2 separate regions of the Homo sapiens genome follow, and region 1 is linked to region 2. The links come from fine-mapping of genetic effects on plasma protein levels. A gene starts in region 2. The other region holds a variant in brackets. All regions are shown on one strand. Distances are between the middles of the regions.

Region 1 (2,500 bases), 13 kb before region 2:
GTACAATAAAGATAAAAATCAACAGGATACTGGTATTGATCATGAAAAAGAGTTCAAAGGGGGCACTGTCTTTGCAAGATGATGTATCAAAAAGTCTCACTGGGAACCCATGATAGTGAGGTGGAGTGTTGCAAAGGTAGTGGCTTGACAGCTCAGGGATGTTGGTATGGGTCTCGTTAATCCAATTAACAAACCAGGCAATACTTTCACACGTGCAATCAAAGGGATTAAAGCGCATATCTAACTCAGTCAGGTTCCTGAAAGCTGGCCCGAAAACCTTCTTCTCAACGGATGTTATGAGATTCTTCTGAAGGTTCAATGACTTTAGAGACACCTGATTATTAAAGACAGATGCTGGAAGTGTGTTTAAATTATTCAATCCTAAATCGATGATCTTTAGTTCAAATAAATCCTTGAAGACCTCAACTGGGATCTCGTCAAAGCCGTTGGACTCCAAGTTAAGGATGTGGAGGTGAGACAGACCCTTTAGGAAATAAATGGGACCACCAGGGTTTGCGTGTTTCCAGAGCCGTGCTAAGTTGTTATGCTGCAAATCGAGAATTTCTAGTTTCTCAAGACCCTCCAACATGTCATCATTTATGTTGGCTATGTTGTTGTTGCTTAGATCCAGAATGGTCAAGTTACGAAGAGGCTGGAATGGTGAAGGAGAGCTATCCACATTTTTAAGGGCCACCCTTCGGAGCATCAGTCGTTGAAGGCTTGGGACCAAGGCAAAGGAGTTCCTAGTCAGCTGCAGGTACTTGTTGTAGGAAAGATAGATTTCGAAAATATTTTCTAGACCTCTCCATTCCTGGCCTGTGAGTTCTTGCCCAATTTCATTAAGGCCCAGGTCAAGTACTTCTAGGTGGCCCAACCAAGAGAAAGCATCACTCTCTATTTTTGAGATTTTATTCTTGGTTAGGTTGAGTATGTGTAAGGGAGAATGAGCAAGTGATACAAATGTTTCATTTGTCAAAGTTCGCAAACTTGTAAAGGAGTTGGATAGACTTAAGTATTTCAGGTTTATCAATCCTGTGAACATATTGCTTTTTATGCCTGGAATATCATTATCTTCCATGTTAAGGTGCTCCAAACATTTTAGCCACTGAAAAGAAAAATCATCAATCTTGGGGAGTGAGGCAAGGGAAATACTTTGTTTAGTAAAAGACCGTTTCAAATTCAGGTACCTCACATTGAAAAGCCCGTGCAAAGAGTGAGAAAACAAATGCTGTATATTATTATACTCTAGGAAGAAATATTCTAGTTGTGGAA[G/C]CCAAGCAAAGGAATCGTTACCAACCACATTTAAGTTGTTGTAGGAAAGATCGAGCATAGTGAGATTTGTCCACTTTAGTCCCAAGAAAGTTGTATTGCTGGTGGTGGACAGCTGGCTGTTACTCAGAGACAGATTCCGAATGCTTGTGTTTGCTAATTCCAAACATAGCTTCTCTGTAAGGCTGGGACCCAGCTGGACATTGTTCAGAAAGAGGCCAAATAATCTTCCAATTGCGTGAAAACACCCTGGAGAAAACTAAAGGTAGGAAAAAAAAAGAGGTTAACAATCAAAAGAACACAGACTCTGTAATGCTGTTGAAAGCCTTTTTTTTTTTTTTTTTTTTTTTTTTTGAGACGGAGTCTCGCTCTGTCGCCCAGGCTGGAGTACAGCAGTGCAATCTCAGCTCACTGCAAACTCCACCTCCTCAGTTCAAGCAATTCTCCTGCCTCAGCCTCCCGAGTAGCTGGGATTACAGGCATGCGCCACCACGTCCAGCTAAGTTTTGTATTTTTAGTAGAGTCGGGGTTTCACCGTGTAGGCCAGGCTGGTCTTGAACTCCTGACCTCATGATCCGCCCGCCTCAGCCTCCCAAAGTGCTGGGATTATAGGCCTGAGCCGCTGCACCCGGCCAGATGCAGTTCTTTACTCCATCTCCGCTCACCCTTCACCACATCCCATGGGCAGAGCATTTCTCCCCCTTCCTGTAATGCACGAGTCCTTCCTTACTCGGTTCCTGCAGCGCCCACCTCTTACTCCAGCCTCTGACCTCCCCTGGCCACGGGCTAACTTCTGCTCAGCATTCACAGCCTCAGCTTAGATGCCACCTTTTCAGGGAGGCTTCTCTGACCTTCCAGTCCAGGATCCATCTCCTGGTACTTTTTCTTTATCACCATGAGAACAATTGCAATGAATAAACTGCTCGTGAAGTCACTCCTGGGGCAGTTCCTGGTTGTGTCTTGGTGCCGCTGTTCTCAGTGAGCCTCATGGAAGGAAGTTGTGGATGGCTTTTATGATGAGGCGGTGACGGCACACTTTCCTTTCTGGAACTCTGAGCTCTAGCTCTCCCTCTCGTCTTTCCACCCGGATTTTCTCCTGACTTTCTTTTACTATCGTGTTTTTCCAGCTCCCTTCTGCTCCGTCCTACACCCTTACCAGAGCCTTGGCTGTTCTGGGACTCACTTCGGGGACAAGAGAACAGCAGGTGGGAGAGGAGGAATCCAGAGAGAA
Region 2 (3,029 bases):
ACACCACTGCACTCCAGCCTGGGCAACAGAGCAAGACCTTACCTCTAAAAAACAAGAAAATTACCTTTGACCAGGCCAAGAAAATTACCTGTGGCTCATGCCTGTAATCCCATCACTTTAGGAAGCTGAGGCTGGAGGATCCCTTGAGCCTAGGAGTTTGGGACCAGCCTGGGCAACACAGGGAAACCTCATCTCCACCAAAATTTTTTTTTAAATTAGCTGGCCATAGTGGTTCACACCTGTGGTCCCAGCTACTCGTGACACTGAGGTGTGAGAATTGCTTGAGCCAGGGAGGTCAAGGCTGCAGTGAGCCACGATCATGCCACTGTACTTCAGCCTGGGCAACACAGCGAGACCTTGTCTCTAAATCGATAAATGAAATAAAATGAAATAAAATAAAATAAAATAAGATAGGGAAATTTCACATCCATCTGAATAACTAAATAAAAAGGTATAAGTATTTTGAGATATGCAAAAATTCAGTAAGTTTATAGCCATACGATCTGTATGAAAAGGTTATTCTAGGACATGCTTCAGTAAAACAAGCAAAAATGCAGTTAAAGGATGAAATGAGAGTGAAGAAAACGTTGCTGTTGAATGAGATCTAGCAGAAATAAAGAAAATGAAAAAAAATTAAAAAGAGACTCACTCAGCCTTAGAATTTTGGAAATATTTTGTGAGGGCACATGGAATTCACATTCTTTGTCCAAGTGAGAGACAATATTGCCTGATGGTTAGGACATGGGGTCTGGAGGCAGACTACCTGGAGTTAACCACTATCCATAGTTTGATTTGTAAACTTTGCAACCTTTGTAGTAGGTTCATACACAGGCACGCCCATATGAAGACACATACCAGCACGTAATCATCTGTAAACCTGGGAATCAACTTGCTGAAGCCAACTCCATTTTTACCCGAGTACCCCACAATTGCCGATACCAGTTTCTGATCTTCCCATACACCTTAACAACTTTCCACTTCTCCACTTCTTCCATTATCCTTCATTAGGTGAAAGAAAGCCATTTACTTACTCCTAGGCATACCTGAATGTTCTCTCCTATCTAAGACATTGTCATACAATGCCAGCTCCTGTCTCCCCTCCAGCCAATAAAACTAACAAAAGGGGATACGCTCTTTTAACCTCTTGGAGTTTTGTTTCTTTAAGGCAAAGATGTGATTTGCTAAAAAGACTGTTGCAAAATGATTTCCATAGCTTCCCTAATGTGTTTTTTCCAGGTACAGAATGCTACAGAGAAAAAAATTAAATACTGCATAAATACATTATCACATTAACTAGATATTGGTGCTATTACTTGTGTTCTGAGTTATACCCTTCTCCCATGCCCATATCATATCCCTTTTCTTCCACTTTCCTTCCTGAATAATTCTGACTAGATTTCAAGCACCAGATCAAAGAAAGACCAAAGAAGGCTAAAACCACATGCATTCTGCTAGCAAACTCTACTCAGCAAGAGAGACCCTGCCCAGTAAGAACGTGAAATGAACACCTTCACTTACTTGGATGACTGCTAGCCTTTCCTTTTTTCTTTAGTCCAAATCCAGACATTTCATCAGGGAAGTGTGTGGCAAATAGACGGCACTCTCGAAAGTGAAAGTAAAGCTTGAAAAAAAATGCTTTTATGTTTGGTGCATTCCAAGAAGGGCAAAGGGAGAAAACAAAAACAATCTCTGACAACCTCAGAGAGGCGTTTCAAACCGCCTCTGAAAAACACCTAGTTTTTATTTTATTTTAACTTTTTTTAAGCTGAGATCCTTGGATTTCATTGAAAGGGTCACAGATTTAGCAACAGCTAAAGTTGAAAGTGGGGACCTCACCATTTGATGTGGGCGGGTCTGGACCTCTGCAAGTTAAGGAATAACAGTGAATCCCTCAATTTTCTGCTAGACTCATGCGAAGCTGTCAGAATTGAGTAGTGTATGGTCACAGGGACAGAAAAAAAAATCCCTAATCAAAGCTGAAGTACTTTCCCTTCTTTCGTCTGGCTTTTATCTCTTTGCAACACTGTAAAATAACACCGGCAGAAATTAACCTCTTGATCCAGGAAGAAACTGAGTTTCACAGCAGAGAAAGAGCCAAACATGGCAAAGCTGAGAGCCAGTCCCACTCCTGCTGATCCACTTTTCCACGGTCAGACGCGTTAGGGAACAGATCAGTATGCCCAGAAAAGTTCAGATTAACTAAGAATTTCGTTCTTAATTTGCTTTAATGACTCCAACTAGTTAAGTAAATGTACTTGTTAAGAAATGAACTCACTTTTTTTCATTACAGATGTGCTATGATCTATTATAACTATATTGTTATATAGTGAAATATCACAATTGGAAGGAACTATAGACCACCTAATCTAACTCCCTTGTTTGAGAAATTAGGAAAACGAAACCTAGGGAGGTGAGTGGTTTGCCTAAGAACATGCCACAAGCCACCATATGCTTCAATCACACAAGTCATAAAACAACTGGACGGCTGGGACATGGCATTAGCTTGAACTCATTGCAGAGCTGATGGCAAGAAACAAGCGTGCATCATGGTGCAAAGTGCCCTCTTGTGGGCTCCAGCTTCAGCTAGACCGCTTTATAGTTACTGGGCTCAGGGCTACATGTCTCTGATTTTCATTTGTGACATCTGTAACATAACACCATAAGCAAACAGATGTCCTGAGTACGTGACTGTCCCTCACATCTATCCATTGGGATGTCCAGGAAAACTTCACTAATATTCAAAAGATTTCTTCTCTGTGAGCGCCTTGAAGGCAGGGTGAGGTTTATTCTTTGCATTATAGCTCCCCAGCAACCCTCTGAGGTAGACTGTTTCTTTGGCCTTCAATGAAAGAGACTCGTCCTCAGAATTCAAACCCTTGTGTGGCCTTCTCCCACGCTGACTCTAGGCTTGGCCATTTGACTAGCTTTGACCAGTGGGATATTAGCAAGCATGCAACAAGGTCTCATTGCCAAACACGATTACCCAGGCTTGAGAAGCAAGCAAATAAATGATTGTTGTTTTAAATTTA

Which allele goes with the higher level. Positions count from the first base shown, and alleles are read on the strand shown. Strength reflects both the effect of a copy and how common the allele is.
With allele G in place of C in region 1, the plasma level of the protein whose gene starts at base 1,611 in region 2 is higher (weak association).

What was found. PIP is the chance, under the fine-mapping model, that this variant and not a neighbour inherited with it causes the effect. Protein levels are from antibody-based Olink assays in UK Biobank. Linkage for the fine-mapping came from a reference panel and not from the study's own genotypes, which makes the PIPs less certain.
Region 1: its variant is fine-mapped to the plasma level of the TLR3 protein (UK Biobank, PIP above 0.99). The variant lies in the coding sequence of TLR3. If it changes the protein, the assay may bind it differently, which can mimic a change of level.

The regions. Positions count from the first base shown.
Region 1 is chr4:186,081,348-186,083,847 of GRCh38, reverse strand. It overlaps TLR3 (toll like receptor 3), which reads right to left. Exons shown (of 5, transcript NM_003265.3): 4 at 1-1,528. Among named protein-coding and RNA genes, the nearest start is that of TLR3, 13 kb to the right of the region's middle. The variant G/C (reference allele first, on the strand shown) is at 1,273.
Region 2 is chr4:186,067,738-186,070,766 of GRCh38, reverse strand. It overlaps TLR3 (toll like receptor 3), which reads right to left and starts at 1,611. Exons shown (of 5, transcript NM_003265.3): 1 at 1,519-1,611.